Linked DNA regions of Homo sapiens: region 1 is linked to region 2. The links come from fine-mapping of genetic effects on gene expression. A gene starts in region 2. The other region holds a variant in brackets. All regions are shown on one strand. Distances are between the middles of the regions.

Evidence for each region. PIP is the estimated chance that this variant, and not a neighbour inherited with it, causes the effect.
Region 1: its variant is the best candidate, but not a certain one, in a credible set for the expression of DMRTB1 in thyroid (GTEx, PIP 0.63).

What each region holds. Positions count from the first base shown.
Region 1 is chr1:53,302,773-53,307,772 of GRCh38, reverse strand. All of the region lies in intron 2 of LRP8 (LDL receptor related protein 8), which reads left to right. LOC105378726 (a long non-coding RNA gene) reads right to left here. Exons shown (of 6, transcript XR_007066090.1): 4 at 4,795-4,886. Among named protein-coding and RNA genes, the nearest start is that of LRP8, 23 kb to the left of the region's middle. RefSeq lists an enhancer at 1-6. The variant G/A (reference allele first, on the strand shown) is at 1,881.
Region 2 is chr1:53,456,550-53,462,065 of GRCh38, reverse strand. It overlaps DMRTB1 (DMRT like family B with proline rich C-terminal 1), which reads right to left and starts at 2,667. Exons shown (of 4, transcript NM_033067.3): 1 at 2,036-2,667; 2 at 421-593. The coding sequence starts at 2,612.

The sequences.
Region 1 (5,000 bases), 150 kb after region 2:
ATTAGAGCATTAAATGGCAGCCCTCTGGGAGAATCCCACCATCTGGCTGTCATGGGAGAGGCAAGAAAATCTATGCATATTTGTCTGCAGTGTGTGAGCATCATATGAAGCCAACTGTGCATGTGTGGGTATGCGGTCTGTGTGCTGCAGTGTGTGTCCAGCATGACATGCGTGTCTGAGTATGTTCAGTATGTGGCGCACACCTGAGTGTGCAAGTGGGTGGTGTGTGCCTTGCTGTATGCACGGGTGCCCATCTGCAAGTACATGCGCTGTGTGCATGTGCCTGAGTGTCTGCACGTCTGTCTGAACATACCTCTGTGTGTGGTCCATGCTCAGGCCTGCCTTTTTGGTGCAGTGAGCCAGGCTGAGCTGTGTGCAGATAGGGAAGGGGCTCGTGACTCCTCCTGGCTGAGGTGGTGGGCACAGACAGCTGTGTAGAAGGTGGGACGGGGTAAGTGTGGCAAGTGCACAGCTGGCCTTCAGTGGGTGAGGCAGGGCAGGCATCCTTGCCCTCATTTGACAGATGGGAAAACCCAAAACTGGAGCCTGGGCTCTGGGGCTCCCTGCGTGGTGCTCTTTCTGTTCCAGCGGGCTGCTGCCCTGGCTGGCACCTATGCTTTTGGCATCTTTATGCTGTTAGATTTTCATGGTGGCTCAAAGTGGTTCTGAGAGAGTACCACCCCCCCTACTCAGTATTGCTCAGGGGGCAAGGTCAGGATTCCCACTGCACATCCTGTGTTCTTCCTGTTTCAAGGAGGAGATATCAGGGCTGCTGGAGAATGCTGGGCCTGATAGTCCTCTGACTGCTGTGTGACCTGGGCCCATCCTGTCCCTCTCTGAACCTCAGGGGTGATTGTAAGAACTAAATGAGGAGACATATACAAAGGGCTTCGTAAACCAGGAGATGAGGTGAGGTGATGTAGACAGATGAGGGCCTGGCCCAGAGATGGCATCACAATACGATCAGAGCCAAAGCTGAGGCCCAAGTTCATGTGTCCCAGGGTTTCCTGAGGAGCAGGCCAGGAGGTGGGACCCAGGACAGAGGCAGGTGCCCTCCCAGCCTTGCAGACTCTGAACCTGTCCTCAGAACCATCTGCCTGGTGCCAGCACTCTCCTCCAACTCCAGCCCCAGACACATGGCTCATGGCAGTGAAGTAAAGCAGGAACAGACCCAGGGAGCAGTGGGATCCAACCCCTCAACTGGTGTTGACGCTGAGGCCCAGAGAGGGGGAGTGGCTTACTCAAAGCCACGCAGCAGCTCGGGGGGTAGAGCTGGGACCAAAACCCAGGCCTCCTGGCCCCTGGCTCTGTTCTCCTTGGTACCATACCACTGTCTTTGGCAAGAGAAAGAGGACACAAGAGCTAGTTCACATGCCTGGAGAAAAGGATGTGGGAGTGCCACCCAGCTAGACAGCACTAGAACAGACCAGAGCCCCACTTCCTGCATGAATGGAGGATCTGAAGCAAGGCTTCAATGATTACTGCTTTTCCTAGGTATGCAGAATGCTGGAGGGTAAATAGGGTTTGTGTCCTGGGCTGTACATTCTGTATAGATGGAAAAGCCCCAGGCTTCCAGATTGCCTGCATGCGATGCCTTCAGCACACGCTTCCTCAGTGCCTGCCTCCACCGAGCTGCTAGTCTGGTAGAGAAAGATGGTTGAGTGCCACCAACACAGGATGATGAGGCTGTGGATCAGAAGAGGTCTCTGATCCCACATGGGGTCGTGGAAAGCTTCCCAATAGAATAGAGAAGGGGAGGAGGGTCCTCCACTCCCAACTCCCAGAGAGTGAGGAATGTGTGCGCCTCAGACACCCTGGCCCCCTGGCAGTCTGGGCCTCATAAGAGCTCATGCTTGGGCAGGCTCACCGTTCACCCTGGA[G/A]TGGGTGGCTGGGTGCCTTCCAGCTTCCTCCTCAGCGCCTCTCCTGTGCCAGGGCCCATGCACGTGGGTGGAGGAGAGGCCATTCTAGAGGCCCCTGGCTCCCTGTGGGGCTGAGGAGAGACTAGTGTGGGGGCAGGGGTGGAGGTGCAGGGAAGCTGGTGGCCAGACCTCCTGTGACCTCCACTCATTGCCTGTGTGTCCAGGTGGGCCAGTCTCAGCTGCCCCGCTTGGCGTTATAACCATTGTGGTGTTAGCCAGGGACGAGGCTTCTGAAGTAGCCTGCACTGTGAGCCCCGCTGGCTGCCAGGTAATAATTCCACCCGCCTTGACCTTTTTCTCCAAGGAACAGGCCTTCTACTTTATACATGGAGAAAACAAGTCACAGAAGAACCAGGTGGCCCAGGATGACAGAGGCTAGGCCTCCAGATGCCCTTTAAAAATTGCAACAAAAACCTCTTAAGGACTCACTGTGTACAAAGCCTGGTGGTGGGGCTGCCACAGCGGCTGGGATAAAGGGAGGAGGAACTTCGGTCACTGAATATTTTCTGTGTGCCATCCCTTATGTCGGGCACTGATAGACGTGATCTAGCAACCAACTGCCCTCCGAGTCAGGATCTACCACCACATTTTTAAATGAGGAAACATGGGCTCAGAGCGGTCAGGTAGCCTGCCTGAGGTCGCTTAGCTAGTAAGGGACAAAGGCGTGATTTGAGTCCTGCGTTCCTTCACCTGTTTTTGTGGGAGAATGGCCATGTCAGGCAGCAGACTGGGATCTTCCAAACCTTAGTTCTGGGAGGAAGGTTCACTTGCAGGAAAAACCAAGGTGAGTGGAATCATCTTCAGGCAGCCAGCAGTGCTCACTGGGCAGGCTGTTTAAAAGTGGCTTCCTCTTCAAGCTGTAGTGGGACCTGTCTTACTGGGGGAGCCATGCTGGCTCAGAACCCCTAGGCTGATGGGCACCCCTCTGTAAGGGGCTCTGAGAAGTGGCCGGTGTGGCTGAGGTCTGGGCCAGGATGCCAGTGGGCGGTGAGGGTTTGCTGGGCACATGACCCCACACCTTTCCTCTTCTTGCCTCCCACAGCCATGTCTGTCCCCTTCTGCCCAGCTCTGGTTGGAGGTGCTGAGCTGGGGCTTGTGGCCATGAACCATCCCCATACTGCTGGCCCTGGGGCTGGCCTCAGATGGGTGGGTGGTCCCGGCCAGAGCCCTGAACCCCGGCCCTGCCAGAACCAACACCTGGAGACATGGCCACCTCCGAAGGTCTTACCTAACTGCAGGGCGTGCCAGCATCTAGCAGGGTCCCTCACGCACAGTTGGCCTGCTGCTTGATTATTTTGGCTTCCAGCAGCAGAGACCTGAGACTTTCCCGGTAGCATAGGAGTCAGCAGAAGCTTGGCCTTCCCAGAACATGGGACCAGAGGAGGTGTCCTGGACAGGGCCAGGTGAGGGGAGGCTGCTGGTGGCCCCTCACTGAGCCTTTCTGCAGTGGGCCTGGGGACCCCCTCTGCCCTGAGCATTTGCCAAGCAGTCCAGTGGCTGCGCGTGGGCCTGCCTTTCCTCCCCCACTTTGGCATGGCTGTCTCCCAGGAAACGGGGAATTTTCCCTCATTCCCATCATTAGGGTGCCAGGGCAAACAAACAGTCTAATCCAGATGAGCCCTGGGCCACAATCACACTCTCTTTGGGGGTTTTCTCTTCACTTGGAGCAATGTTGAGAAGGCTGGAGTAATTGGTATTCCACCCAGGTTAATAGAACTGCTGCCTCCTCGGTATTATGCCTTAATTTCCTTTATCGCTCAGCAAGTTGGAATTCATCGCCCCTTTCCTTTCTTTTTCCCACCGAAACCTATCACCAGCCTGTCTGCTGGGTAAAGTCATTTCATGGCAGCTCTTGGCTCCTTTCCACTTCCCTGGGAGTCTTTCTGACCGAGCCAAAGAACAAGGAGGGGTGAAAAATCCATTTGTACAAAGTGGGGATCTCCTGTTGAGAGCTTATTTCCCTCCCCGTTCAAGAGGAAGGAACGTGTTCAGCCTCCAGCCAGCACGGCTGACTGAGTCCCCTGTCGCTGAGAGCATTCAAGAGGGCGAATGGCCATATGTCAGCGGTGGGAACAGAGGATTCCAGCACTGGTGGGGGTTGGGGGAAAGGGGCAGGCCTTTGCCACTCCTGGTGCCTGGATTAGATTAGAAGCTTCTAGGGTTTTGTTCTGTTTGTGAGTCTAAGATTTGTGATTTAAAACTGGAAAGATTCTGTGGCTCCTTGGTCCTAACGTTCAACGGAATGAGCCTAAGTACTTGTAAATTGTGTGTTTTACGATTCTCAGATCCTGAGACAGGGAGATTCTGTTCTGTGATTCGAAGACTATCTTATGATTCCTCCAGTCTCTTCAGCGGCAGTTTTGTTCCTGACTGGGTCTTGGGAGGAGTGCAATTGCTTTGCTGAGGTTGCCATGGGAGCGCGAGGCTGCTGTGGCCCCTTTTCTCATGTATGAAATCCAAGGGCTGGGCCACATGGCCCTGGGGCCCAGGTGTGTTCAGCCTGCAGCCCCCTTGGCTCCACCAGAGCCTCCCACAGGCCCTGTGAGGACTGGCTGCTCCCCACCACCTCACTGGACCCAGATGCTTTTCCAGCTAAGCCATGCCCCTTGCCTGTCTGCCCCCGGCCCTCTCCCATTCGAACGGGGAGGCAACCCAGCTCTCCCCAAAGTCCCTGTAGGAAAGCTGGAGCAGTGGGGGAGTGGTGGTGGTAAGAAATAAGCCGCATGATTGACAAGAGCTCTACCTGCTTTTGTGGTGATGTGCAATTTCACCATGAATTTCAACATTACAACCTCTCTTAATTCCCACCCTCTGAGGTGGTTAGCCCCATTTTATTGTTGAGGAAGCTGAGGCTCTGAGAGGTTAAGTCACTCACCTATAATCATACAGGTTGTTCCCAGGCCCTGACTCTGGATCACCTGCTGTAGTACGGCTCTAGGCCGCCTGGGCAGCATGATGAAACTGTCTCTACAACAAAAATCCAAAAAAAAAAAAAAATTAGCTGGGTGTGGTGGTGCACGCCTGCAGTCCCAGCTACTTGGGAAGCTGGGGTGTGAGGATGGCTTGAGCCTGCAAGGTTGA
Region 2 (5,516 bases):
GCAGTCTCAAGTGTGCTATACCTGTGGGCAGGGAGCCTACCTCTGGTCCTGGCTCTGCCCTAAATTTTGTGGTCCCAGGAAGGTGATATGCCCTTTCTGGAGTCCAGCAAAATGAAGGGCCCTTCTAGCATCAGCATCAGTCAAGGAAGGGGTCATCCTGAACGCTCAGAGCCTTTCAGCCCACTGCCCTGAAAAGCACAGGCCATAGCCCAAGCCGAGTGGTGCAGACTGGTCCACACGTGTGCTCCCAGAGACACACACACTGTGCCTGGGCAGTGCCTAGTCCTCCACCAGCACTCGGGGGCTGGCATGGCGTGGGCACAGTTTATGACAGCTGGCTTCCTGGGACTGAGGATCCATCAAGGCAGCAGGGGCAGACTGGGTGGAGGAAGCTGGCAAGAAGTGAGGGGTGGGACTCACCAAGCCTCCGCCTTGGTACTGGCTGCGGGACACATGCCGGAAGCCCTGCTGCAGGGGGACGCCAGGAGGGGCGTCCAGGTAGCCCAGCGGGAACGGGCAGTAGGGGTGCATGCTGGAGCCACCAGGGTACTCAGGGCCCAGTGCACGGTCCGGGTTGATGTTCAGAGGGCGCACTAAAGAACGCAAGCAAGGAGGGAAGTGTTAGACACCGCTGGGAAAAGCATCCGCAGGGCGGCCCAGGGCGGCGGGGTCATCAGCGCTGCCGTCCAAGCACAGAAAGCCCACCCCGCACTTCCTTCCGCTGGGCCCTCACTGCATCTCCATCCTCCAGCCAGCCCCACTGCTCTTGGAAAGTCCTCAGCACGGCCATCAAGCCCGCTGTGGGCCGGGGCCGCCTCCAGACCTCCCCGCTGCCCCACACACCGTCAGCCCGCACTCTGCCTCTCTGAGGCCTCAGTGCCGAGCTCCTCCTCCTCCTCCGGGTCACAGTGAACCCGGCCATGGCTCAAGCCCTGGACACTGATTTGTGTGACTCTTTGATCAACCCTGTCCCTCCCACAAGGACAAGGTCCTTGAGGGCAAGAAATGTGACCCGCGTCCTCCATCACGAATGCCTGGCTCATGGTTCGGCTCAGCCCTGCTTGTCTGTTGAGATGGAAAAAAGAAAGGTGGCTTCTCCTAGATCTGCAGTTTCAGGCCTGTGACCCTGTCAGATGGGACGTTCCCTGGGGACCTAGATTTTCCTGGAAAGTCAGGGGGGCGGGACGAGCCTGCGGGAGCCTCCGGACCAGTGCCCTGGCACACAGAGGGCAGGAGCTTGTCCAGCGTGACCCGGGCCCCCGCCTCGGCCTGAGCCCGTCCCACCACACCACCACGGGGGAGACACCAGGAAAACGCGTCCGCACCAAACCCCGGGGCTTCTAAAGCTTCAAATGTACATGTGACTTGAAACTACTTCAATACCAAAAGCTCCAAGGCACAGGGAACAATGTAATTTATGTACAAGGTGAAGGGAGAAAAGAAAGGCAACATCTTTACTGACCAACTGTTCTCGTGTGTGGAGTAAAGAAGCAGGCTCCCCTCACCTGCACGTGGGGAAACGGAGGGAAGAGGTGCGCAGGCGCACTGGGCCAGGGCGGAGCTGAGGGGAGGAGCCTCCCGACCGCGAACCGGGAGGGAAGAGTGCGCAGGCGTCCTTGCGCTAACGTGCCGGCAGGAAAATTCTGTTATTCTGGAGGAGGAGCCTCCAGCCCAAGGAAATGGCGGGAAGAGGTGCGCAAGAGCAGTAGGACTCGGCTCCTCGAAGCCTCCCCCGGAGGAGGAAGCACTGCTAAGTCGACTGGACGCCATTTTGTTCTTGCATGCCGGAATGGCACAAACTACAGCTAAATGTTAAAAGCCCTCTGAACCGCCCATTCCTTTCTGTTTCTCGTTTCCTTTTTGCGAAAAGTTACCCAATCCAAATCCCTGTTCGAAGAAGGGTTTCTCAAAGCGGAAGGTCCGTTACCCGTGGAAAAACTTCTCTCCACCCCGAACCCCTATGCCAGCTCCCCATCCGGGCTGGCCTGGGCTGCCAGCTCCGGGAGTCGACCGCGGGACCAAGGCCACGACTTACCAAAGTCGGTGAACAGTGGGCCGGGCACGGTCCGCATCGGCCTGCGCAGGTCTAGGGGGCCAGGGTAGCCACTGCCTGCGGCCTCCGCCCCAAAAGGGGGTCCCGCAAGGCTGGGCATCGCCACGGCGGCTCGCTCGCTCGGCTCCACGTGGCTGCGGCCGCCCAGAACCGGCTGGAGGGCTCTCGGGCCGGGGTTCCGGCCCCGCGGGGGCTGCTCGAAGAAGCAAGCGGCCGCGCGGCCCTCGGGTCCCGGGTCGGCGTCTCCGGAGGGAGTCCCCGGGGACAGCGGGCGGAGGCTCGCGGCCGGGACGGGGACGGGGGCGGGGGCGGCGGCCGCAGCCCCGGAGGCCTGCTTGGGCCCCTGCGCACACAGGGCCGCCTCCTGCTCCTCCTCGGCGGCCTGCGTCTTGAGCACCTTCTGCGCGGCCATGATCTTCTGGCGCTCGGAGATCAGGTAGCACTTCTCGCAGAGGCACTGCTTCCAGCGGCATTTGCCCGCGTGTCCCTTGACGGGCACCAGGAAGCCATGGTTCCTGCATCTCGAGCACTTGGGGGTGCGCACCATTTTGTCGGCCATTGGCAGGGTCAGCCTTCGTAACACAACCACCACCTCTGGGAGCTGCAGAGCAAGTGGCGCTGGGATGAGCCGCGCCCCACAAGTCCCTCGTTCTGGGGACATTGGATACACTTGTAACAAAGCGGCTCGCAGTGTGTCCCGGGAACTGCAGCAGGAACCTTGCATTTTCCCTCCTTTTGGGGGGTGCACAGTTTGGAGAGTTTCTGTGCTTTGGGTAATTAGATGCAATGGATTGGGTTGAATAAATTCTTCATGGGATGCTATTGCATGTATGTCATTTAGCTTATCTGAAGTCTTAGGCATGTAATTTTCCAAACTCTGTTCCCGCCACCGACGGAAGGTATTTGTAACTTTATGAAAGGCGGAGTGATATTCAACGGTCCACAAATTTAAAACTCGGGAGGAATGTAGCTCTCGGTGTAGAAAAATACTGTAAGAGGCAAACTGTATTTCTTCTCCCCAAAGCTGCTCCTTCTGTGGCAGTTCACTTCTCTGCCCTGCAGAGATGCTTCCAGGATATTCCAGAATATTCTCAAGAGTTCAGTGCAGTGTGATGGTTGCTCAAGGGTATGCCCTTACAGTAATTCCCGTTTCTTGAGAGTCTTGATGTAGGAATGCATTTCTGGATGTTGATGCCTTCCAAAGTGAGCATACTTAGAATATTTTAAAGTAAAATAGACAGAATATTGTAGCACTAAGCCTGGCATAGTGTCCTGTGCCTGTAGCCCTAGCTACTCGTGAGGATCACTTGAGCCCAGTAGTTGGAGACCAACCTGAGCAACATAGCGAGACTCCTCTTTCTAAAAAATTAAATAAAAAATTCTGCAAGACCCCTCTTTCTAAAAAATTAAATTAAAAAAAATTTCTAGCACTAGCTTCAGTGATTGCTTAACCTCATCATGAACTTCGTTATCCTTGTAAAACAACCCAAATCTTGGGACATCTGAAAAGTTAGCACAAACGTCATAGTTTACCCGAGGGCATTAATTGTTTTTTTTTGTTTTTTTTTTTTTTTTTGAGACAGAGTCTTGCTTTGTCACCCAGGCTGTAGTGCAGTGGCAGGATCTTGGCTCACTGCAACCTCCGCCTCCCAGGTTCAAGCGATTCTCCTGCCTCAGCCTCCTGAGTAGCTTGGATTACAGGCGCCCGCCACCATGCCCAGCTAATTTTTGTATTTTTAGTAGAGACGGGGTTTTCGCCATGTTGGCCAGGCTGGTCTTGAACTCCCGATCTCAGGTGATCCACCGGCCTCGGCCTCCCAATGTGCTGGGATTACGGGCGTGAGCCACCGCGTCCGGCCATTAATTCATTTTTTAAAAACAAATTTGTGACACCCTGAGGCATCTCTCTCTCTCTCTCTCTCTCTCTCTCTCTCTCTCTGTCTCTCTCTCCCGCCCCTCCCCCCCACCACCCCACTGCCTCCATTTCCCTCCCCTCCCCTCTCCTCCCTTCTTTGTCCAAAAAAAGGAAAAAATGGGCCACTAACAAGCTGAAAAGCTTCTAATTAGATCAGTCGCATTTAAGGAGGTAGTTACAGTTAATATGTGGCTAAAACTTGTGCATTTTTCATTGCTCTTTCTTTGAATTTCTCTCTTTCTGTTGGTAGAATGGGAGAAGCCCACGCCTGGTGTCCACCTTGATTTTCCTGAGTCCGTGATTGTAGTTGTACCTTGCGTTTCTCACTAGCTGCCTGGGAATAGGAAATGGTTACCATTGGGGGGCTTATTAGATCTGGAAAGCGAAAAAAGGTTTTAAAGTCTTTTTCTGCTTTAAAAAAAATCATCTTAATAAGAAAGTAAAAGTAGTAAAAAGTTTCCTGTGTTACTTGGCTTGTTAGGACTTCACTGGTTGCTCTGCATCCATTTAAGGAGGACTAGGTTTGTTTCTGCTTTGCTCTAACAACCTCTCACTTAAGTTTTTATTTTAAAAATATGATTAGTGGGCCGGGTGCAGTGGCTCACGCCTGTAATCCTAATACTTTAGGAGGCTGAGGCAGGTGGATCACCGGAAGTCACAAGTTCAAGACCAGCCTGGTTAACATGGTGAAACCTCGTCTCTACTTAAAAAAAATACAAAAATTAGCTGGCCATGGTGGCGGGCGCCTGTAGTCCCAGCTACTCGGGAGGCTGAGGCAGGAGAATCAGTTGAACCCGGGAGGCAGAGGTTGCAGTGAGCCGAGATCGTGCCATTGCACTCCAACCTGGGCAACAGAGCGAGACTCTGTCTCAAGAAGAATCATATATATATATGATTAGTGGCCGGTTGCAGTGGCTCATGCCTATCATCCCAACACTTCAGGATGCCGCGGCAGGAGGATAGCTTGAGCTGAGGAGTTCCAGACCAGCCTGGGAAGCATGGCGAAACATGTCTCTACAAAAATTAGCCAGGGATGGTGACTTGCGTGCCTGTACTCAAGAGGATCGCTTGAGCCCAGAACGTCGAGGCTGCAGTGAGCCGTGTTTGTGCCACTGCACTCCAGCCTGGGTGACAAAGCAAGTCCCTGTCGAAAAAAAAATAAAAAAATAGTTAAAGGACAGGCAAGCTCTTTTTCTGACTCTACCCAATAAAAAATGTATAGCGTTTTTCACTGACCTTGTCTTTTGAAAATGTCACTTAAAAATCATAGTTTCAGTACTGCTGTCGAAAAATCTGGGGCACAAGCTGCATTGTTTCATGACACTGCAAATTGTATTGTTATTTTCTGCATTATCAAATTTAAATTTGAACATCAGGTGACATCGGATAATAAGGCCTAAAAACGAAAACTACTCATTCATATTTCATGCTTGACCACCCAAGCTCTCACTTTCTCATTAATATTAATAATTTAAAGGAAAATTTTCTTCAAAGCAAGCTATTTGAGTTAACATACGTTAGCCTTGTTAACTACAAAATGCTTCCATA